Regions from separate parts of the Homo sapiens genome. Here all the other regions are linked to region 3. Evidence: fine-mapped expression QTL. A gene starts in region 3. Each other region holds a variant in brackets. All regions are shown on one strand. Distances are between the middles of the regions.

Evidence for each region.
Region 1: its variant is fine-mapped to the expression of CXCR6 in whole blood (TOPMed, PIP 0.94).
Region 2: its variant is fine-mapped to the expression of CXCR6 in whole blood (TOPMed, PIP above 0.99).

Annotation. Positions count from the first base shown.
Region 1 is chr3:46,218,966-46,227,600 of GRCh38, forward strand. It overlaps a transcript of CCR3 not described here. Among named protein-coding and RNA genes, the nearest start is that of CCR1, 15 kb to the left of the region's middle. RefSeq lists an enhancer at 2,703-2,872. The variant G/T (reference allele first, on the strand shown) is at 4,162.
Region 2 is chr3:46,069,994-46,078,628 of GRCh38, forward strand. It overlaps a transcript of XCR1 not described here. Among named protein-coding and RNA genes, the nearest start is that of XCR1, 47 kb to the left of the region's middle. The variant C/T (reference allele first, on the strand shown) is at 3,399.
Region 3 is chr3:45,938,854-45,946,853 of GRCh38, forward strand. CXCR6 (C-X-C motif chemokine receptor 6) reads left to right here and starts at 4,611. Exons shown (of 2, transcript NM_006564.2): 1 at 4,611-4,687; 2 at 7,608-8,000. The coding sequence starts at 7,629. All of the region lies in intron 14 of FYCO1 (FYVE and coiled-coil domain autophagy adaptor 1), which reads right to left.

The DNA of each region.
Region 1 (8,635 bases), 280 kb after region 3:
AGTTCTAGCCAGAGCAGTCAGACAAGAGAAAGAAACAAAGGCCATCCAAATTAGTAATGAAGAAGTCAAACTGTCGCTGTTTGCCCATGATATGATCACATACCTAGAAAACTCTAAAGACTCATCCAAAAAGCTCCTAGATCTGATAAAGGAATTCAGTAAAGTTTCAGGATACAAAATCAATGTACAAAAATCAGTAGCACTGCTATACACCAACAGCAACCAAGCTGAGAATCAAATCAAAACCTCAACCCCTTTTATAACAGCTGCAAAAAATAATATTATAAAATACTTAGGAATATACCTAATCAAAGAGGTGAAAGATCTCTACAGGGAAAACTACCAAACACTGCTGAACGAAATCATAGATGACACAAACAAATAGAAACACATCCCATGCTCACGGACAGGTAGAATCAATGTTATGAAAATGACCATACTGCCTAAAGCAATCTATAAATTCAATGCAATTCTCATCAAAATGTCATCATCATTCTTCACAGAACTAGAAAAAAAATCCTATAATTCATATGGAACCAAAAAAGAGCCCACAAAGCCAAAGCAAGACTAAACAAAAAGAACAAATCTGGAGGCCTCATATTACCCAACTTCAAACTATACTACAAGGCTATAGTTACCAAAACAGCGTGGTACTGGTATAAAAATAGGCACAGGCAGATAGACCAATGGAACAGAATAGAGAACCCAGAAATAAAGCCAAATACTTACAACCAACTGATCTTTGACAAAGCAAACAAAAACATAAAGTGGGGAAAGGACACCCTTTCCAACGAATGGTACTGGGATAATTGTCAAACCACATGTAGAAGAATGAAACTGAATCCTCATCTCTCACCTTAGACAAAAATCATCTCAAGATGGATAAAAGACTTAAATCTAAGACCTGAAACCATGAAAAGTCTAGAAGATAACATCAGAAGAACTCTCCTAGACATTGGCCTAAGCAAAGAGTTCATGTCCAAGAACCCAAAAGCAAATGCAACAAAAACAAAGATAAATAGATGGGACTGAATTAAACTAAAAAGCTTCTGCATAGCAAAAGTAATAATCAGCAGAGTAAACAGACAACCCACAGAGTGGGAGAAAATCTTTGCAAACTGTGCATCTGACAAAATGGTGAATATCCAGAATTTACAAGGAACTTAAATCAGCAAGAAAAGAACAAATAATCCCATCAAAAAGCGGGCTAAGGACATGAGTAGACAATTCTGAAAAGAAGATACACAAGTGGACAACAAACATATGAAAAAATGCCCAACATCACTAATTATCAGGGAAATGCAAATCAAAACCACAATGCAATATCATCTTACTCCTGCAAGAATGGCCATAATTAAAAAATCAAAAAATAATAGATAATAATAATAGATGTTGGCAGGGATGTGGTGAAAAGAGAATATTTTTACACTGCTGCTGGGCATGTAAACTAGTACAACCACTATAGAAAACAGTATGGAGATTCCTTAAAGAACCAAAAGTAGAACTACCATTTGATTCAGCAATCCCACTACTGGGTATCTACCCAGAGGAAAAGAAGTCGTTACAATGAAAAAGGCACCTGCACATGCATCTTTACAGCAGCGCAATTCACAATTGCAAAAATATGGAACCAAAGTAAATGTCCGTCAACTAACGAGTGGATAAAGAAAATGTGATATACATATACCATGGAATTCTACTCAGCCACAAAAAGGAACAAAATAATGTCATTCCCAGCAACCTGGATGGAGTTGGAGACCATTATTCCAAGTGAAGTAACTCAGGAGTGGAAAACCAAACATCCTATGGTCTCACCTATAAGTGGAAGCTATGCTGTGAGGATATAAAGGCATCAGAATGACATAATGGACTCTGGAGACTTAGACGGAAGGGTGGGAAAGAGACAAGGGATTAAAGACTACACGCTGGGTGCAGTGTACACTGCTTAGGTGATGGGGGTACCAAAATCTCAGAAATCACACCTAAGGAACTTATCCATGTAACCAAACACCACGTGTTCCCCAAAAACTATTGAAATAATAAAATAAAATGATGCACATGAAGAATTTAGCAAATAATGTAAACTCAACAAACTCTGTTATTATGGTTACCTAAACTCTGTTAGACCCACCTTCGCCTTAGTGATATTAAGTTCACAACTTGAACTTGGCCACGGAGAGTATTTACACCAAGGAAACTGGAAATTGATGCTATTATATCAGGCATGTTGTGCCTGTTTTGATTCTTCCTCCAGAAAGCTGGTTGTTAACATTTACCAGCACACCATTGCAGAGTACCTATAGGCCATGAATGTACAGGGAAGATGTTTGCATTTCTTTCATCTTAAGTCTTCAAGGACAAATGGATCTGACAACAGCAACAAATACTGTATCTGAGTTTATATAAATCTTTGGTTTCAGCAGAAATAGCTTTTACTTGAATATCTGCTCTTCCCACTAGCAGCTGGGGCCTGATTCCCTAGTTGTAGGGGTATTCCTGCACATGCAAGATGCACCCCTCACATGCCCCCCGCAGCCCAATCCTTCACAAAGAGAGGTCCTGACCTTGGCTGGGCTATGTTTCAAGTCACACAAACAGTTCAAACCACACGGCTCTGCCTGCAGTTGAGGCATCTTGAACCCAATTTGCACTTCCCTTTTCTAGACTTTTAGTCTTATTCCTGTCTTCCTTTTCCCTCTGTGGGTTATTCTGCGGGGTGGGCTATTTTGTTTTGCTTAAGCCTTCATTTTTGAGCTTGCTTTCCTCCAAGAACCCCTGGCAGGTTTCCGGTTGTTGAAATGCACATTCACTTCTTCCAAAGGATCATCCTGTGTTCTTTTGCCCCTTGCAAAGCAGACCTACCCAAGACCACTGAAGACAAAGAAGGGGGTCCATGAAGGAGTGTGTCTGGGCCCCTGACTGGCCGCCACCCCTCACTTAGCTCTGCCTGCCTTTCCTCTTCCCGTGTGCCCCCTAGTCCCTCCCCAGCCCCTCTCTTGCCACTGCTGTCCACACAATTTCCCACAGGCTTCCTCCACACAAACTGGCACTGAAGATTCCCCCTGAGGACTGGGCAGGAGCCCTGAAGGTCAGATAGGCAGGCCTCCCAGGCTGTCCCACTCTCTAGGACAATAAGGCGTGACACTCTCCACATCAAAGGACCCATGTCTGAATTCCTGTTTCAGAGCAGTGAGACAGAGGAAGCAGGACCATGTATCATGCCACACCACCAATCCATATCAACACAGCAGCCACAGAGTATGGCACACCTAGGGCATTCCTGGATGGCCATGGTGGAGGTGGGGAGATGGGGGTTTCATGGGGATAGATGAACTTCTAGCTAGACTGGGCAAGTGATGGGTCCAGTATGATAATCTGGAGAAGTTACAGGGGCTGACAGGCAGCCTGGTTGCGTTACTTTCTCTTATTTAATTTGTCGCCCTCTTGCTGCTGCCTTGCCTCTGAAGCTACCTATCAGGAAGCCCTAGGATTCTTCTTGAAGGGTACTGCCAGGCTAGTAGAGAACTCAGGAGAAAAACCTCCAGAGTCCCTTAATCTTTCAGGGCCCCACCCCACAGATCTAGTGCCCTAGGTCCTGGGCTCTAACTTCAGACATCATGCATGGCCAGGCATGCTGCGCTCCTCACCTTGTTCAAGCAACAGACAATGGCAGCACCTTGCCACAGGCAGCAAGTCCTCCAGCACACCAGACCTGGCACAGCCCTCAGATGCCAGCCATGCCACCTTGGGCATTTTTATTTACCGCTTGTCAGAACCTCAGCTTCCCCACGTTTAAAATAGTGAGAGTAATATTTCTTTCTCAGGATTGTTGCAATAATTAAATATGATTCAATATGTGTCTGGCACTTGGTAAATGTTCAGCCGATGGGAGCTACGTGGCTATTTATTTCCTCATCCTATGCCTCAGTCAAACTGGTAAACATCTGTTGAATGTCTCCTATGTGCAAGAAAATTGTCAAGAAACCCTTCATGCTAAAAAGGGGAAGGAGAAAGTATATTAAGGAAGTGCTCTAAAAACTCCCTGTCCAGGTCCAGCCCAAGTTAACACTTACAGTCTTGCATGCCAAGTTTTAAAACTCTTTTGAGGCCAGGTGTGTTGGCTCACGCCTGTAATCCTAACACTTTGGGAGGCTGAGGTGG[G/T]TGGATCATGAGGTCAGGAGTTCGAGACCAGCCTGGCCAATGTGGTGAAACCCTGTCTCTACTAAAAATACAAAAATTAGCTGGGTGTGGTGGTGGACATCTGTAATCCCAGCAGAGGGAGGAGAACTGCTTGAGCCCAGGATGTGGAGGTTGCAGTGAGCCGAGATCGTGCCACTGCACTCCAGCCTGGGTGACAGAGCAAGACTCTGTCTTGAAAACAAACAAACAAACAAATAAAATCTCTTTTGAGTCTGGGCTTACATACAGTCTAATACACAGCATTTTATATCATGTTATCTGTATTACATCTTTTCTCTCCAGCTAAATTGTAAGCTTCTCAGCTGCTGGGCCCATGCCCAATCCTTTTTCATATGTTTTCCACAGTACCCAGCACTGAGATGCATATATATAAGAGGTGGTCAGTGTAAGGACTTGCTGATTAAAGTTGATGCTTGTGTGTGTGCATGCATGTTGTGTACATGCATGCAGGTGTGTGTGTGCATGTATGTATGTGTGACTATTGATAAGTACAGTTTGACCTCTTTTATTCAGAGTGACATTATCACGTGTCACTTGTATCAATCTGTTTTCCCTTTCAGCCTGCCTCAGTTTCAGGAAGCAAGAATTCTTTTGGCTCCTGACAAAGAAGGGAGAGAGACATTTTAGATCCCATGGCTTGCCTGAAACTTGGCCACGGACAGGGTGCTGGTGCAGGTATGGGACATGGATAGAGGTACTAGAGGACAGTGGATGACTTGAGCAGGTTCAGAAACATAAGCCCAGAGGTGTCGGTAAATAGAGTCTCCATCGGGTGTGATCAGGGTGTGCCAGGAGCTGGGTAGAAAGCAGCATGAGTGCCCACAGCCAGAAACAGCTCAGGGAGAGCTCTTTCAAATAAAGGGATGCATATACAAAATCGATTAAATACTCCTGCCAGTTAATAAGAAAAGGACCAATGGCCTCTTGTTTTTTAAATAGGCAAAAGACTTGATTAGAAACTTCATAGATGAGGATATCCAAATAACTAACATGTATGTGAAAATGTGCTCTGCATCACTAATCATTTGAGAAATGCAAATTAAAACCACTGGTTTTAATGAGACGAACCAATGAGACAGCAGCACATAACCACCAGAATGGCTAAAATGAAAAAAACGCAAAACAACATCAACAAAAAACCAAACCCTGGGCCAGGCACGGTGGCTCACACCTGTAATCCCAGCACTTTGGGAGGCTGAGGCAGGCAGATTACCTGAGGCCAGGAGTTCAGGACCAGCCTGGCTAACACCAACATGGTGAAACCCCATCTCTAATAAAAATACAAAAATTAGCTGGGCACGGTGGCTCACACCTGTAATCCCAGCACTTTGGGAGGCTGAGGCGGGCAGATTACCTGAGGTGAGGAGTTTGAGATATCCTGGCCAACATGGTGAAACCCTGTCTCTACTAAAAATACAAAAATTAGCCAGGCATCGTGGCACACACCTGTAATCCCAGCTACTTGGGAGACTGAGGCAGCAGAATTGCTTGAGCCTGGGAGACGGAGGTTGCAGTGAGCCGAGATCATGCCACTGCACTCCAGCCTGGGCAACAGAGCAAGACTCTGTCAAAAAAAAAAAAAAAAAAAAAGCCATCAACAACAAAAAACAAACCCTGACAATAGACAATACCAAGTATTAAAAAGGTTATGAGGCAATGAGAACTCTCACACCATGCTGGTGCAAGTATAAATTGGTACAACCACTTGAAAAATTGTTTAGCAGTATGTAAAGCTAAACATGTGCTTTCCCTGTGACCCAGCAATTCTACTTCCAGGTAAATACCCAAGAGAAGTGCACATAAACCCAAAAGATGTGTTCAAGAATGTTGTTAGTAACTTTATTCATAATAGTCTCAAACTGATAGTCCAAAATTCTTATCAGTAGTAAAACAGATAAATTAGTCATATGAGAGAATACTATATATAGTAATATAAAAGACCAAACTATTGCTACTGCATGCTACATAACCTCATTTATAATGAATTCAATAATGGTCAAAACTGATCAGCAGTGATAGAAATAAAATAGACATGACCTCTATGGAGGTGGGTACTGACTGGGAAGAAGTGCTAGGGAACATTCTGGGGTTCTAGTAATGTCTTGACTGGTGGTTACATGGGTATGTGCACATGCAAAAACTTAAGATTTAGGCATTAACTCATTAGGCATCTTACCATCTCAATCTTTAAATCTTTGAACATTTTTTAGGTAAATTGTCCATGGCATGGTGGCACCTGCCTGTAATCCCAGCTACTCGGGATTACCCAGCTACAATTGCTGGGTTGTATTGTAAGCACGAATTTAGTTTTGTAAGAAAGTGCCATGCTCTTTTTCATAATGGCTGTATTATTTTATGTTCCCAGCTGCAAAGTATGAGTGATTCATTTTCTCTGCATCCTTGCCAGTGTTTGTTTTACTATTCTTTATTTCAGCCATTCTGATAGGTATGTAGTAACATCTCATGGTAGTTTTAATTTGCATTTCCCTAAAGACTAATGATATTGAACATCTCTGTATGTGCTTAGTGGTTATCTGTATATCCTCTTCAGTGATATGTCTGTGCATATCTTTGACCATTTTCTAATTGGAATTTTTGCTTTTTTGCTTTTGAGTTTTGAGAATGCTTTATATTCTAAACAAATATTTTGTTAGATATGTTGTTTGCATTTTTGAGTTACTTCTTGTATAAGGTGTGAGGTTTAGGCTGAGGGTCATTTTGTTTTTTGGTTTATCTACGAATGTACAATTCCTCAAGCACCATTTTTTGAAAAGACTATCCCTCCATTTAATGGCTTTACACCTTTGTCAAAAAACAGTTAAGCATATTTGTGAGTCTAGTTCTGAGTTCTCTATTTGTTCTTTGATCAGTATGTCTATCTCTCTGCCAATATCACTCTATCTGGATTACTGTAGCTATATAATACGTCATGAAATCAGGTAAGTGATTCCTCTCACTTTATTATTGTTTTTCAAAATTATTTTAGCTATTCTAGGTCCTGTGACTTTCCATATAAACTTAAGAATAATAAGCTTACAAATGGCTATAAAAATTTCACTGGAATTTCTATAATATAAATTTCCCTAAACCTTGGATTAATTTGGGGAAAATTGACATCTTTACTGTTGAGTCTTCTAATCTATGAACATGGTATATCTCTCTATATTTATTTAGGTCTTCTTTGATTTATTTTATCAGCATTTTGTAGTTTTCAGCATGCAAGTCATGTACATACTTAGCTAGAGTTATACCTAAGTATCATCTAAAAGCTTTTTGGAGCAACTGAAAATGGCACAAAAATTGTTAATTTTGGCTTCCACATGTTCCTTAGTACATATAAATGTGATTGACTTTTGTTTCCTGGTTTTGTTCCTGCAATCTTACTGACCTTGGGATTTTCTATGTAGACCGCTATGTCTTTCCTAAATAATAGGGACAGTTTTATTTCCTCCTTTCCAATCTGTATGCCTTTTATTTATTTTTCTTGTCTTACTGCACTGGCTTAAACTTCCAGTTGAATAGGAGTGGTGAGAGTAGACGTCCTTGCTTTGTTCTTGATCTTAGAGGAAAACATTCATTCTTTCTCCATCAAGTATAATGTTTTCTCTAGACTCTTTGTAAATGCTGTTTATCAAGTTGAGGAAGTGTCTTTCTATTTTTAGTTTGCTGAGTGTTTACCATGAATAGGTGAAATATATATATATATATATTTTCTTTTTTAATTGAGATGGAGTCTTGCTCTTTTGCCCAGGCTGGAGTGCAGTGGCATGATCTCGGCTCACTGCAACCTCTGCTGCCCAGGTTCAAGCGATTCTCATGCCTCAGCCTCCTGAGTAGCTGGGACTATGGGTGCATGCCACCATGCCTGGCTATTTTTTTATTTTTCGTATTTTTAGTAGAGACAGGGTTTTGCCATGTTGACCAGGCTGTTCTCAAACTCCTGACCTCAGGTAATCCCAGCCCCTGCCTCAGCCTCTCAAAGTGCTGGGATTACAGACCTGAGCCACCACGCCCAGCTGAAACATTTTGTTAAATCACTCTGTCATAGATATTTTATCTATGTCAATATTCAACAAACTAGTTTTTCTGAATTGTTGAATTTATGATAATAAAGTAGTTCATAGTATTCTATTATTATTCCTTTTAATGGCTGAAGAAGCTGTAGTAATATCCCGTTTTATTTCTGATATTGGTGATTTATGTCTTCTCTTTTTCTCTTGTATGTCTTGCTAGAGGTTTATCACTTTTCTTGATTTTTTTGAAAAACTGGCTTTTTGTTTCCTTGCCTTTTTTTCTCTTGCATCCCTTGTGATGGAAGTTTCTTTGATTTTTATCTACTGTTTTTCTGTTTTCAATTTTATTTATATTTTCTCTTTATTTTTGTCTCCTTTCTACTTGTTTTGAGTTAATTTTGCTCTGCATTTTCTGGTTTCTT
Region 2 (8,635 bases), 130 kb after region 3:
GTGTTTCCATTTTCATTCATCTCAAAAAATTTTTAAATTTTCATCATTGACCCAAGATTATTCAGGAGCATGTTACTTAATTTCATGTATTTTTATAGTTTCCAGAGTTCTTGTTATTGATTTCTAGTTTTATTCCACTATGATCTGAGAATATACTTGATATGATTTTGATCTTTAAAAATGCATTGAGACTTGGTTTGCAGCCTCACAGATGATCTATCTTGGAGAATGTTCCATATGCTGATGAGAAGAAGGTATATTCTATAGTTTTGAGTGGAATGTTCTGTAAATGTCTATTAGGTCCATTTGGTCTAAAGTCCAATTTAAGTCCAATGTTTCTTTGTTAATTTTCTGTCTCAATGATCTATCTAATGCTGTAGGTGGGATGCTGAAGTCCCTCACTATTATTGTGTTATTGTCCATCTCTTTCTTTAGATCTAGTAATATTTGTTTTATTAATCTGAGTGCTGTGGTGTTGGCTGCATATATATTTAGGATTGTTATATTCTTTTGTTGAATTGATCCCTTTATCATTATATATAATGACCCTTGGGTTTTTTTAAGGTGTGTTTTATCTGATACAACTATAGCTACTCCTGCTTCCTTTTGGTTTCTGTTTGTGTGGAATATCTTTTTCCACCCCTTTACTTTCAGTATATATGTGTCTACCAAAAAGTTGAGTTCCTCGTAAGCAGCATGCAGTTTGATCTTGTTTTTTTAATCCATTATGTCAGTCTTTATCTTGTAAGTGGAACATTTAATCCACTTACATTCAAGGTTAATATTGATATGTGACATTTTGTTCCTGTCATATTGTTAATTGTTATCTAGTTGTTTTATCAATTCTTGGCTTTTTCTTCCTTTGTCTGTTGTCTTTGTGGTTTGGTGGTATTCTGTCATGTTGCCATTTGATTCCTTCCTCTTCCTCCTTTGTGTAATTGTTTTATGAAACCTGTGAGTTTTTATATTCTCATGTGGTTTTATGATGGTGAATACCAACCTTTTGTTTCCATCTTTAGTACTCCTTTGAGCATTTCTTGTACAAAAGAAGAGAGGAGATCCAAATAAACATACTCAGAAATGAAAATGAGACATTGCAACTGATACCACAGAAATACAAAAGATCATTAGAGACTATTATGAACAACTATATAGTCATAAACTAGAAACCTAGAGGAAATGGATAAATTCCTGGAAATATACAGCCTACTGATATTAAACAAGGAAGAAATAGAAATTCTGAACATACAAATAACAAGTAATGAGAATGCATCGATAATAAAAAAAATTGCCAGATTTTTTATTCCAAAAAATCCCAGGCCCAGGTGGCTTTTTTTTAAGTTTCAAAAAAAGGCCAGCACCAGATGGATTCACAGATGAAGTCTGCCAAATGTAAAGAGAAGAACTGTACCAATCTTCCTGATACTGTTCTAAAAAATTGAGGAGGGAATTCACCCTGACTCATTCCACAAAGCCAGTATCACCCTGATACTAAAGACAAGGATACAAGAAGAAAAGAAAACTACAGAGCAACATTCCCCGTGAACATAGATACAAAAATCCTCAACAAAATACTAGCAAATAGAATCCAAGAGCATATCCAAAAGATAATACAGGATGATCAACTGGGTTTTATTCCAAGGATACAAGGATGATTCAACATATGCAAATCAATACATGTGATTCACCACATAAACAGAACTAAGGACATAAGCCATATGATCATCTCAATAGATATAGAAAAACCATCTGATAAAATTCAGCATCACCTCATGATAAAAACACTCAACAAACTAGGCACAGAAGGAACATACCATAAAATAATAAAGCCCCATATATGACAAACCCATAGCCAACCTCATACTGAACGGTGGAAAGTTGAAAGCATTCCCTCCAAGAACTGGAACAAGTCAAGAATGTCCACATTTACCACTCCTATTTAACATAATACTGGAAGTCCTAGCCAGAGGAATGAGGCAAGAGAAACAAATTTTAAAAATCCACATTGGAAAAGAGGTAGTAAAATTATTTCTGCTTGCTGAGGTTATGATCTTATATCTAGAAAATACTAAATCCTTTAGATTTAATAAATGAATTCAGTAAAGTTTCAGGATACAAAATCAACAGACAAAAATCAGTAGCATTTCTATAAACCAATAATGATCAAGCTGAGAACCAAATCAAGACAGCAATCCCATTTACAATAACTAAAATTAAAACAACAACAACAACAAACCACCTTAGGCTGGGTATGGTGGCTCATGCCTGTAATCCCAGCATCTTGGGAGGCTGAGGTGGGCAGATCGCTTGAGCCCAGCAGTTCGAGACCAGCCTGGGCAACATGGTGAAATCCTGTTTCTACAAAAAATACAAAAAATTAGCTGGGCATGGTGGTGCACACCTAGAGTCCCAGTTACTTGGGAGGCTGAGGTGGGAAGATTGCTTGAGTCTGGGAGGCAGACATCGTACCAATGTACTCCAGCTTGGGTGGCTGAGAGGGACCTTGTCTCAGTGAAAATAAAACAAATAAAAACAAAACAAAAAATCCTGGAAATAAATTTAACCAAGGAGGTGAAAGAGCTCTACAAGAAAAGCAGCAAAACACTGATGAAAGAAATTATAGATGACCCAAATAAAAGGACAAATATCTCATGTTCATGGATCAGAAGAATTAATATTGTCAAAATGACCATACTGCCCACAGAAATCTACAGATTCAATGCAATTCCTATCATTAGAAAAATGATGTTGATAATTTATTGGAATTAGAAACAAATTCTAAAATTTGTATGCAACCAAAAAAGAGCCTGAATAGCTAAAGTATTCCTAAGCAAAATGAACAAAGCTGGAGGCATCACATTATCTGAGTTCAAATTATACTACAAGGCTATAGTAACCAAAACAGCATGGTACTAGTATAAAGGTAGACATATAGATCAGTATGACAGAATAGAGAACCCAGAAATAAAACCACATATTTAGAGACAATTGATCTTTGACAGAGCTGACAAAAACACACACTGGGGAAAAGATACCCTGTTCAATAAATGGTGCTGGAAAAATTGAATTGCGATATGCAGAAGAATGAAATTGGAACCATATCTCTCACCACATAAAAAAATCAACTCAAGATAGATTCAAGACTTAAATATAAGACTCAAAACTATAAAAATACTAGAAGAAAACCTAGGAAAAACGAGACATTGGTATAGGCAAAGAATTAATGACTAATATCTCAAAAGTACATATGACAAAGACAAAAATAGACAAGTGGGACTTAGTTAAACTCTTCTGCACACCAAAAGAAATAAATAACAGATGCTGGGTGCAGTGGTTCACATCTATAATCCCAACACTTTGGGAGGCTGAGGCGGGCAGATCACTTGAGGCCTGGAGTT[C/T]CAGACCAGCTTGGCCAACATGGCAAAATCCCATCTCTACTAAAATATTAGCTGGGCATGGTGGCACACACCTGTAATCCCAGCTACTTGGGAGGCTGAGGCATGAGAATTGCTTGAAGCCTGAGAGCCGGAGGTTGCAGTGAGCTGAGATCATGCCACTGTACTTCATCCTGAGAGACAGAGTGAGATTCTTAAACAAAAAACAAAAAACAAAAACAACAGAAATAAACAACAGAGTGGACAGAGAGCCTGCAGAATGGGAGAAAATATTTGCGACTTATGCATCTGACAGGGGACTAATATCCAGAATTTACAAGGAATTCAAACAACTCAACAACAACAAAATACAAATAACCCCATTAAAAAGTGGGCAAAGGACATGAATAGACATTTTAAAAGAAGATATACAAATGACCAAAAAGCATATGAAAAAATGCTCATTATTACAAATCATCAGAGAAATGCAGATGAAAACCAGAACATGATACCATCTTACACCAATCAGAATGGCAATTAAAAAAAAAAAACCCAACAGATACTGGTGAAGATGTGAAGAAAAGGGAACTCTTATACATTGTTGGTGGGAATGTAAATTAGTACAACCTCTTTGGAAAATAATATGGAGATTTCTCAAAGAACTAAAAGTAGAACTACCATTGAATCCAGCAACCCCACTACTGGGTATCTACCCAAAGGAAAAGAAAATAGTTATATCAGAGATAACTTGCACATGCATGTTTATCACAGCACAATTTACAATATATATGCAATGGAATTATTATTCAGCCATAAAGCAGCAACACGAATGGAACTGAAGGCCATCTTTTTTTTTTTTTTTTTTTTTTTTTTGAGACAGGGTCTCTTTTCTGTTGCCCAGGCTAGAGTGCAATGGCACAATCATGACTCATTGCAGCCTCAACCCCCAAGGCTCAAGTGATAGAGGTCATTATCTTAAGTAAAACAACTCAGAAACAGAAAGTCAAATACTGCACGTTCTCCTTCATAAGTGGGAGCTAAATAATGTATACACATGGACATAGAATGTGGAGTAATACACACTGGAGACTCAGAAGAACGGGAGGTAGTGGTGGGGGGTGAAGGATGAGAAATTATTTAATGGGTACAATGTACATTATTTGGGTGATAGATACACTAGAAGCCAAGACGTCATCATTATGTAATATATCCATGTAACAATGCAATTGTACCACTTAAATTTATATTTTAAAAAAAATCATAAGGAAGAAAAATATATTTACTATTCATTATGTGGAAGTAGGTCATCATAAAGGCTTTCATCCTCATTGTCTTCACACTGAGTAGGCTAAAGGAGGAAGAGGAAGAGGAGGGGTTGGTCTTACTGTTTCAGGGGTGGCAAAGGTAGACGAAATTTTGGATTTAAGTGGACCTTCCCAGTTTAAACCCATGTTGTTCAAGAATCAACTGTACTGTGAACAACTCTACACACATAAAACTTGTCAACTTAGATGAGATAAACCCACTCTTCAAAAAGCACAGACTACTATAACTCATCTATGAAACAGATAATTTGAATAGCCCTGTAACTACTAAGGACATTGAATTCATAATTAAAATCTCCCAAGAAAAAAATTTCCAGGCCCAGAGAGTTTAACTGGAAACTATTTCAAATATTTAAAGAATAATTAGCACTTTGAAAAGGAATGAAATGGGAAGAATCACTCTACCCAATTTTAAGACTTATTTCATAGCTATAGTAATATGTGATATTGGCAGAGGGACAGACACAAAGATTAATGGAAGAGAGTTAAAAAAACCCAGAAGTAGCCCCACACAAGTATGGCCCACTGGTTTTTGACAGTGGTGCCAAAGCAAGTCAATGAGGGAAGGATAGTCTTTTCAACAAATAGTGCTAGAGCAACTAGATGCTCATAGACCAAAAAAAAAAAAAAAAAAAAAACAACAAAAATCAAAACCAAGAAACCTCAATCTAAACCTTTGACCTTATACACAAATTAACTCAAATTGGATCATTGATATAAATGTAATGGATAAACTATAAAACTTTAAGAAGAAAACATAAGAGAAAATCTTTGAGACCTAAATCTTGGTGAAGAGTTCTTGGACATAACACCAAAAATATAATACATAAAAGAAAGAATAGATAAACTATTAAAATGAAAAACATTTGCCCTGCAAAAGGCCCTGTTAAGACCATCTCCAGAATGGGAGAAAATATTTTCCAACCACATATCAGACAAATAGCTCATGTCTAAAATATATATAGAATCCTCAAAATTCAACATTTAAAAAGAAAACAAAACAAACAAACAAAAAACAACCAATTCAGTTAAAAAATAGGAAATGACTTGAAGAGACATTTCATGGAAGAGGATTTTTCAAATGGCAAATGAGCACATGAAAATATATTCAATGTCACTAGCTACAAGGGAAAGGCAAATTAAGACCATGATAAGATATTATCACATATGTATCATAATAGTTAAAACAGTAAAAATAGTGGCAATACCAAATTCTGACAAGGATGTGGAAAAATCTAGATATCTCATACTTTGCTATCTAGTTTGGGGAATGTAACATGGCATAGCCACTCTGAAAAGAGTATAGCAGCCTCTTAAAAACCAAGCACGCACCATATGTGTTAGTCAGGGTTCTCCAGGAAAAAGAGCCAACAGGATAGATAGTGCTGGCCTGGGCCACCAAGATTTTTTAACAGTCACCTTCCAACCCTGCCCCAAGTGATTCCATGAGCAGCTAAGATTAAGAACCACTGCCCAGGGGAGACTTGGATTTTGTATGCAAAACAATTACTCCATGTGGTCCTACAATTTAGGCAAATTTGAAAGATACCCTTGTCTCTACCATCTGACATACCACCCACACTCAGCACTTGGCCAGCTCTGGGAACCCCTTGTATTCTTCTGGCTTTGAGAGAAATTGTTGAATGTAAGGTATGAGTCCTGCTGAAATCTGGGCCGTTCCTACTTCTTGGCTGAATATTTTGTCTGAGCTGGCCCCACATTGGCTCAAGTAAAGTCTTCAAAATTATTAATATATTTTGTGCCTCAGCTTCCTCAGCTGTAAAATGAGAAAGACACTCATCTTGCAGAGTTGAGTGCTTTAGATGTGATGTTGGTCAATGATTGCCATTTTGTAGAAGCTTAACAAATGGTAGCCATTATTTTGAAAAAAAAAAAAAAAATAGGATATCATTGAAATCAGCAGCAGCAAAGTTAAAAGACAGAATTGTGGCTCCTGTTTAGTTCACATATTTCCCTGGGAAGGAGGAAAGTTTCTATGCTGGGGCATAGAAAACAAGGGGCTATACCTCAATGGTCCCAAACTGACCTTATCAGGTTGGCCTTCTTGATAGTTTCACTTTCCAGATGCTAGAGAAATTTGCTGTGGGCCACTGCCCTCTATTGAAGTAATATTGTCACTTCTGAGGAAAGAATACTTGGACTTGCCATAGGAGAAGTCAAGGATTGCACTTGAATTTCATCTCACTGGGGTAAAGCTGACCCCTGTGTGAGCACTGAGAGAGAAAAGAAACTTTTTATGTGAGGAATACAAACCCCTTTAATATATCCAGCCCAGAAAGGCTTTGGAGTAAAAAGCTGTCACATCTCAGTCCCTGCTTGAGCTAAGTAGTTACCTCTTGAAGCCACTTGCTGTGGGCTCTGGACTAACTGATGCCACGTAGCTATAAAATGCCATATACCATAATCATGGATGCCACAACTCATATCCTCTAGCTCAGGGGTCCTCAACCTCTGGGACGCAGACCAGTTAGGAACTAGGCTGCACAGCAGGAGGTAAGCAGTGGGCAGGCAAGTGAGCAAAACTTTATCTGCTGCTACCCATTTCTAGTATTACCACCGGAGGTCCTCCTCCTGTCAGATCAGCAGCAGTATTAGATTCTCATAGAAGTGCAAACCCTATTGTGAACTGTGCATGCGAGGGACCTAGGTTGCATGCTCCTTACGAAAATCTAATTCCTAATGATCTGCCACTGTCTCCCATCACCTCCAGATGGGACCATCTAGTTGCAGGAAAACAAGCTCAGGGCTCTTACTGATTCTACATTATGGTGAGTCATGTATTTCATTATATATTACAATGTAACAATAATAGAAATAAAGTGCACAATAAATGTAATGCACTTGCTTCATCCCCAAACCATCTCCCCTACTCCTCCTAGGTCTGTGGAAAAATTGTCTTCCATGAAACTCGTCCCTGGTGCCAAAATTTTGGGGACCACTGCTGTAGCTCAACAACATAAAGCCAATCACTAATCAATGTTATTTCTGCAAACCAATGAGAATTCCTGTCAAATAGCTTTGTATCAGTCCACTCCTTGCTCACTTTTTGTCTTTAAAAACCTGCCTGAATGGATGCAGCTGGAGACAATTATTCTAAGTGAATTAACACAGGAACAGAATACCAAATACCGCACGTTCTCACTTATAAGTGAGAGCTAAACATTAGGCACACAGGGACATAAAGCTGGGAACAACACACATTGGGGACTATTAGAGTGGGGAGAGAAGGAAAGGGGCAAAGACTGAAAAACCACCTATTGGGTACCATGGTCGCTACCTGGCTGATGGCATCATTTGTACCCCAAACTTCAGCATCATGCAATATAGCCATGTAACAAACATGCACATGTAACCCCCTGAATCTAAAATAAAAGTTGAAATTATTTTTTAAAAAGCCTGCTCGCAACAAAGGCTGGATGCGGCACTCCCCAAAGCAACTTGGAAGTGTGTCCTGAGCAGCTGGCCTCATGTTGGCTCAAGTAAAGTCTTCAAAATTATGAATATATTTTGTGCCTCATCTTCTTCCTTTGGGGTCAGCATTTTTGGTGCCATGAGAAGGATTCAGAATAACCCCCTTGGCTCTACTATCTGACTTACCTCCCAGACTCAGCGCCTGGCCAGCTCTGGGAACCTCTTGTATTCTGACTTTGAGAGAAATTGTTGAATGTAAGGTATGAGTCCTGCTGAGATCTGGGCCTTTCCCATTTTTTGGTTGAAGGTCTAGATTTTGCCTGAGCTATGTTTTCCGATCCTCCCTTACTAGAATGGGAGTTTTCCATCTGTGCCTAATGGGCAGGAGATTTGGGTTCCAGAAAAGAAAAAGGGTAGGGGGAACAGCGTTTTTTCACCTCTGCCTTGGGGAAGGGAGGTCTGGGTCCAGGCATTGGCAATTTGACATTGGTGGTTTTGCTTTAC
Region 3 (8,000 bases):
ATTTCTTACCATGAGATGTTGTAGGAAATGTTCAAGCAACTCAGAGGATGTCAAGGGATGTAAGAGCTTGAGAAAGGACAGCAACCAAAGCATGACCACTAGAGGGCACCCCACCTCCTACTACAGCTGCTTCCTTTCCTTGCTATTGAGGCAGCCTCAGCAAAGATACCAGATACTCACTGCCCACGCGGCTTTCCTCCTCCCCTTGCTCTGGTCATGGCAGCCTACTGCTAGCTTGGCTGATGGCATGCCACCCTTTCCTTCCGAGTTTCTGTCTGCAGCCTGTGGTCAGTTGAGTGAATATCTCTTGAGCACATGTTCTAGTCCGTCAACTTGTCTGTCCCTTTGTGGGTGCCATCCTGGCATTCCTGGGCAGCCTGCTGTGCACACAGCCCATGCCCAGTGAATATCTACATTATTTGTCTCAGGGTAAGGTTTTCTTCTGTCCCAAATGCTCCCAAAGGAGGACATACCCAAGGCTCCACATTAGAAGCGAGTCAGAATAAAGTGGTGAGCACAAATCAGGCAGCCCCTGGCACTGTAGTCCTGGAGTCCACACCTCTCTGAGTCATGGTGGAGCCCCTTCAGCTTGGTGTCTACAAATGGGAGTCTATAGTCCTTCCCTGTCACGACTCAAATGGCCTCAGCCTGTTTGTTATGTAATTACTGCACAACTTTAATCCTGCAGACTGCCTGCAGTACAGATCTGCTTGTTTAGAAACTAGCTGAGGGAGGAACAGATGCCTGGAAAATCCCTATGGCCCAAGGTGCCTTGCTGCCAATCTTCCCCAGAGGGTGCCATCTCCCCTCAGCCTCGCTAAGCCCCGCAGAGTGAGAAGTGTTGTTTTCCTGATTACACAGGCTCCCATCGTCCCTCTGGTCAGCCTCCATTTGTGAACAGTCTCCTGTGAAATGGAGATGTCTTCAGTTTAGAACTGCACTCTTCAATACAGTAGCCACTAGCCATATGTGGCTATATAAACTTAAATTCATCAGATAAATTTAACTAAAAATGTGGCTGCCTGGTGGCATTAGCCACATTTCAAGTGCTCAATTCAAGTGGCACTAGCCACCTGGACTGGTGGCCACTGTGTTGGGCAGTGCAGGTACAGCACAGGTCTCTCACAGCAGAAGGCTCCACTGACCAGTGCAGGTTTGGAAGGTTGGGCTGAACCACACCACACACATCATATTCACTCTGTGATCTGGGGGCATCTTTAAATTTTGCTATCAAATTATTATTATTGTATTAACTTGATTTTACTTTGCTAATCCATTGCTTATAAATTCCTAGTGTTAGAGTAGGTAGCTAGGCAGACATGAGCAGGGCAGGAGAGGGCCCCCCTCCCCCAGGAATGTCAGGTGACCATCAAGTAATGGTCAGGCAATTGTTAAGCTGTCTCTCTAAAATAACTGGTTGCAGCCAGAGCCAGAGAAAGAGTCTCCCAATAGATAGAAAACATCTGAAGCTGGTAATCAGCAGCTTCCTGACAAGATCTCAGGAGTTGGGCGAGTGGGCTCAAGCACGCACACTAAGAGGCAAAATGGCAGTTTAACCGGTATGTGACCTTCCTCTAGAAACGACTGATAAGGGAAAAACACCTCAAATGAGCATGCATACACCTCCAGTAAACAGTCTGAGCATGCAGCTCCTCCCAAGTGCTGGCAAGCCACCATGCCTGCGGACAGCCTGCTCCAAGGGAAGAGTCGGGGGAGAAGAAACATAAACCCTGGAACCATGCCAATGTATAAAACCTCAAGTCAAGGGCCGGATGGGGCACTTGGATCTCTCAGGTCACCTGCTTGGCTCTCTTCCAAGTATACTTTACTTCCATTTGTTCCTGCTCTAAAACTTTTTAATAAACCTTCACTCCTGCTCTAAAACTTGCCTCAGTCTCTCCCTCTGCCTTAAGCCTACTTCTGCCCCTCGGCCAAATTCTTTCCTCCAAGGAGGCAAGACTTGAGTTGCTGCAGACCCATATGGATTTGCTGCTGCTAACATACTTTGGTGCCACATGACTCAGACACATTCCCTAGTGGTAAGACACTCCTACAACTCACCTTCTTCCGCTGGAGGTAGTCAACCCCTGTACGCGGTTTCCTTCTCCTGCTCTCCTGCTTATAGAACAATTGTTCCTCCAGAACAATTCCTCTCAGCCATAGTGGCTCTGCTCCCACCAGATGATCTCTCAGCTCATCCTGGTGACTTGCAGGGGTACAGGTCTGCCGGCTATGTTGCCCAGGCTGGCCTCAAACTCCTGGCTTCAATGATCCTCTCATCTTAGCCTCTTGAGTACTGGGACTATAAGTGCCCACTGCCACGCCTGGCTGGTTAGGCTACTTTTCTGTGGATCACAGCCCATCATCCACCAATGCCTTGCCAACAACTGTAAATGTCTCATCCCTGAATCCTGGAACTGATAACAGCTCTGCCAGGTCTTCAGGTAAGGAGAGCAGGCCAACAGTCTGACTTCCAAGATAAATCTGCAGCAGGTATGTCTGCCACTTCCTTTTTACTCTTCCCTCAATTTTATTTAGAAAATGTTTAGGTATTTCTGGGGAAATCTAAGACATATATGATTGGGTTCCCACCCTTAGGAAGTTCAAAGTTTTGTTTCAAATAAAAGTAATGCCCTTAAAACAATTAACACTATAAATTGGCAGATAGTAAACGGCATTTTGTAAAGTGATTAAAATAAAATTTTAGCCCCAAACCTGCAAGTGGCTCAGCTCCTCAAATTTAGGTGAAAGTCTTTTGTACTATAGAGAAGTTTCTATTAAAGAATGGCCACGATAAACAAGCCATGCTTTCTCAAATACACATATCCCCATATTGACATGTACACACAGTCATGGAGGGCCCCAGGTGCTGGCTTGTTTTTCCCCATGGAGTAGAAAGGCTTGCTGAGAAAAGCATGGCCAAGGGTGCTTGACAAGGCTCAGGCCATTCTAACACTGCCCTATGGACCTGTCTTGAATGGCATGGTTGGTTGTCCCTGGGTAAAACTCAGCTCTCAAAGCTTAAAGATTCCTAAATGTCAGGCAGGGTTACATTAAATTGCCACCCTGCCTTGAAAGTTCTCTTTCAGGAAGACAGGTGCATATTTGGCTCAGTCTGTTCCTTTATTCATTTGTCCACCATTCCCTACATCCATCTGTCCATCGGTATGTAGTCTATGCGGCCTCATGGTTCATGCCCATAAGGAACACCTCACTCATTTGTACCAGTTTGGTAGAAAGGACAGTCTGAACGAATTCATTCAAAAAGGCCTGCAAACCTACTAGAGGTCTTCAGATCTTTTATCAGGGCCCCCTGGCACAGCTCCATACTCAGAGCAGGGCAGGAAGCACTGGCTTTGCAGCCTGACAGTCCTGGGTGACTGCCAGGGATGTGTGTTCTTGGGCAAGTGGGCTAATCTCTCTAATCTTCTGTTTGCCTATCTGTACGTGACTAGGATTAGATGGCTGTACATAGAAGCATCCAGCATAGGGCCAGGCTTGCGGTAGAAATGAGTGTTAGTCTCTGGATCCTGAGGCTGCTCCTGGTCCCTGCTCCCAATGCTTGACATTTGCCCTTAGGAAGAGCCACATGAGAAGGTTTGCCTAGCAGGTGGGAGAGAGCAACAGCATTGGAGAGAAGCAGCCTGAATGGGAGTGCAGAGCCAGAGAAGGCAGGCCAGGCACCTCCACAAGAAGGCAGCTGCTTCTGGGAAAGCAGACATCGAGTCCATGCCTCTCCCTAGTACCCTCTCCACTACAAGGCACTGGGGCATGTGACCCAGGCTGACATGCCTCCAATTCCTGCCTTCCAGCGTTATTTCCCAGAAGGGTCAGTAATGTTAGATCATGGAGACTGACAACTAGAACTGTACTGAGATCAAAGTAGTCAACATCTGGGGAATTCCAGGAGTACAGAGGGCAGCCCAAGGAAACCAGATGATTCCAGCCAGCCTACGCAGGGTGGGTGGGCACTGCCTGCTGAGTGCCTGAGTGGTGTGGGCTTAGGAGGTGGGGCTGCACCAGGCCCTCTGGCAGACCCATCATCATGCTGTTGATTGGTCTGGTAATGACAGATACCTGAGTGTGTATCTTCGATTTTCCAGTTTCTAGCTGTGTGCACCAGGGCTTGTTATTTTGGCTATGGTCCTCAGTGTTCTCATCTATAAAGGCAGGATAATATCCACTGCAGGGCTGCTATGGGGCTTAACAGCTATCACATATGCTGGAGCTGCATATGCACGCAGAACCCAGCCCATACCATGGACTCAGCATTGGCCCAGACCCTAACTGTTCCAAAAAGATGTCTGACTAGTGAATTAAGTAATTTTAAGGTACAAATGCCACCATCTTCGGTGGATGGCCAGAGCCAAACCTCCTTATTGTTCCCCTTTAGTTTACGAATAAAGCTCGTCAGGCCCTGACAGAAGAATCAGCCCCAAAGCAGAATGAAGGGAGTGTGGGGTATCAGTCACCCATCCATCTCTGACCCACGCGTTACACAGGGGCGGGTTGGTCATATGGATTCTGATCTGAAGGACGGGAGTAGGGGGTGGGTCTCTTATAGTAACCAGCTGAGGGCTCTTAAAAAATGTTCAGCGGAAACATGAACCACATCACAGAAGTAGAGGCAGACCTTGCTTCATGAGCAAGCTCATCTCTGGAACAAACTGGCAAAGCATCTCTGCTGGTGAGTCATTTGTTTTACTCTTTATATTGAAAAGAAGACAGGGAGGACTAACCCCAGGTATTGTTGGTATTCTCAGATTCCTGTCTGTAGTAGGGTACAGTGCAAAATGCCAGGCTATGGAGCTCAGCTGCTCTTCGTTCAAATTCCATCACTGCCATTTGCTGCTGTGTGGGTTAAACTGGAGAAACATGAAAACTACTGAACATGTTTCCAGGCACACAGTTAGTGCTTGCAGGCTGATGGTACTGCTAGTAATGGCATAGTCAGACCCACCCAGGGAGATAAGGAGAATCTAGTTATTGTCTATATTTGCTCAATGAATAATCTCTGTTTTCATTTCTTTTGCATAAGACAGGCTGTTTTATCAGATTATCATTTATGTTCTTTTTTCAATATAAATCAACATACTACTGTAGAAACTTTGAAAACTATTTTAAAAAAAGGAAGAAATAAGTCACCCATAATTCCACCAGCTGGAGGCCAACTGTTAATAAAATGTGATCATTTTTTCCAGGTTTCTAAAAGTACGGTCAGTTAAAATCACATAGTTTATCATGAACTCTTATGTGAGGGCCCACAGAATACATGGCAGAAGGATTCAAGGGGTTCATGGACTCCCAGAATTGTAGGGGTGTTTGTGTGTGTGCGTGTGTGTCTGTGTGTGTGTGTGTGTGTGTATATATATATACATTATTTCTGAGAAAAGGTCTGCAGTTTTTAGGAGATTCTCAAAGGAGTTTATGGTCAAAAAAGGTTAAGAATCACAATTTTATATCCTTTTGACATCTATTTGTTGTAATAGTAATAGTTAATACTTATTTTGCATATTTACTTTGTGTTTACACTGTTCTTAGCAATTTAACTGTATTGCATTTTCCAAAATCAGTAAAAATACTTCCTAAACATTTAAGTATATTCTATTTTATGTATGAATTGTAATTTGCTTCATCATTATCAGACTTTTACACTACTTCCAAAGTTGTAGATTTTTTTTTTAATTTTCAGAAAACAAAATAGGATTTTAATTATAGAGGATAAAGAAATGAATGTTTTTAGTTCGCCTAGAAGGGAAAGTAATTTTTCATACTCTATTTGCACAGCACTGTCCAGGCCCAATCTGTTTACCAATTATTATACATCAAAGTTTACCAATTATTACACATGAATTTGCACAGGTCCTTTGAGGAAATGTGTAATGGCAGCATAAGGGACCAGCAAAAGCTGGAACAGGAAGATACCAAAAAAAGGCGAGAGCGAGTCAAGCAATAATGGGGAGCTGAACATTATTCTTAAGAGCAAAGCCACCTGTTTCATATTTTAAATGATGAAAAAATATGTTTTTGCCCATGTGAATCAATAACACATACACATCATCTGACCTACTTAATACAGTGCCCCAGAGAGCTTGTGGGGGGCAGGATGTCTACTGGCTGACCTATCACCCTTAGAGATCTAACAATTGTGACGTAAGGGCAAGGATTTTTATTAAGCAGTCTTAGCCCAAAGGCAGCATCCTTCCTTGCTAGAGAGAAAGGGCACTTTGGTCCCTGGAAAGACAGAGGCAAGCAGCAGCATCGGAGACACTGCTCCCAGTCAGGACTCAAAGTCAGCGACAGAAGTGTTTCTGAGTGGATTAGGAAAGGTAACCTCATCGTTTATATGCACTTGTCTGGTCAGGCAATATTTTGACTTTGCTGGCAGAGATTCTGTCCAAACACCTGCTCTTCTTCATACATCTTCTAGAGGTGCTGGCCAGACATGGCTCCAGGTCACTGGAAATGAGCTGCTGCATGTTGAGTATCTGCAGTCCTGTAGCAAGGGCAGACTTGGCACTCATGGGCTGATGTTGCCGCAGCTGCCCCTGCTCCCACACCACAGGTTACATGATCCCTTGTCCTGTCCATGGTCTTTGGCAGGGTCACAGGGCAGAGGGAAGGGTCAGAGAGAAGTGACATCTTGAAGGGCTGGTGCCCTGGGTAAGAAAGGTTGCCCATCTGGCATCCCATTTCAATTGGGTTTTCTGCTTGTTAAATGAGGCCCCTAAGTCCTAACCTGCCAATCACAGGAGCTAAGGCAAGGTTCCGCTTTGGGGAAATCTACCTTTTAAGAGACTTCTTGTTCAGAAGTCTTCAGGAAATGAGGCTCTGATGGTAGAATGCCATAAACTGTGTTAACTGATGAAGGGGAAAGTTTAGTTGGGAAGTGAGGAGAACCACCCAATGCTTTAACCATGAAGCCAGCTCAGCCAAAGTGCTGGGCAGTCGTGGGCTTTTCTATGCTTTGTTTCCCCATTAGTAGCCTTTGAAAATCTATGCAATTGAGGGGAAGTAAAGGCAGGAAGGACTACCTACCCAGGCAGAGCAGTCTTGCCATCCCCAAACACCTGTGGTCTCCAGGAGTCTCCTTGATAGGAGAGCCCCCTGGTAGGGGCACTTGCTTTAGCTTTCACAATTTATTAGGAAATGGGGCTCAGGATGGGTGGGCAACTGTGGTGAGGCAGGGGGAGATGAAAACAGGCATGTTCCATTGATGAGCTCATATTATCAGTGGGCTCAACCATCCATCATCAGTGTTGCTCTTCCAAACAGCACTGTGCCCACCTGGCAGCAAAGCGACTTTTGGTTTCAAAATAATTGAGCACAGGATTTTATGGAATGTGCTTAGGGGTCAGTTATGAGTTGTCTCCCAGATGGGTGAGATCCTGAGAATTTTCAGGCTAATGGAGAGTCCTCATCCTGTCTGAGCAATTTCCCCTCAGAATTGGTTATCTTCAATATACTGGACTGTGCTGTTTCTACACATCCCAGTGGGTGGGTTTAGAAGATGACTATTTGCCCCCTAAATGTGGTCAATGGGATAGCAGGAAGACAAAGAATGCCATCCTCAGCCCCAAATATAATTCCTGGGTTCTGACTCACAGGTGTTCATCAGAACAGACACCATGGCAGAGCATGATTACCATGAAGACTATGGGTTCAGCAGTTTCAATGACAGCAGCCAGGAGGAGCATCAAGACTTCCTGCAGTTCAGCAAGGTCTTTCTGCCCTGCATGTACCTGGTGGTGTTTGTCTGTGGTCTGGTGGGGAACTCTCTGGTGCTGGTCATATCCATCTTCTACCATAAGTTGCAGAGCCTGACGGATGTGTTCCTGGTGAACCTACCCCTGGCTGACCTGGTGTTTGTCTGCACTCTGCCCTTCTGGGCCTATGCAGGCATCCATGAATGGGTGTTTGGCCAGGTCATGTGCAAGAGCCTACTGGGCATCTACACTATTAACTTCTACACGTCCATGCTCATCCTCACCTGCATCACT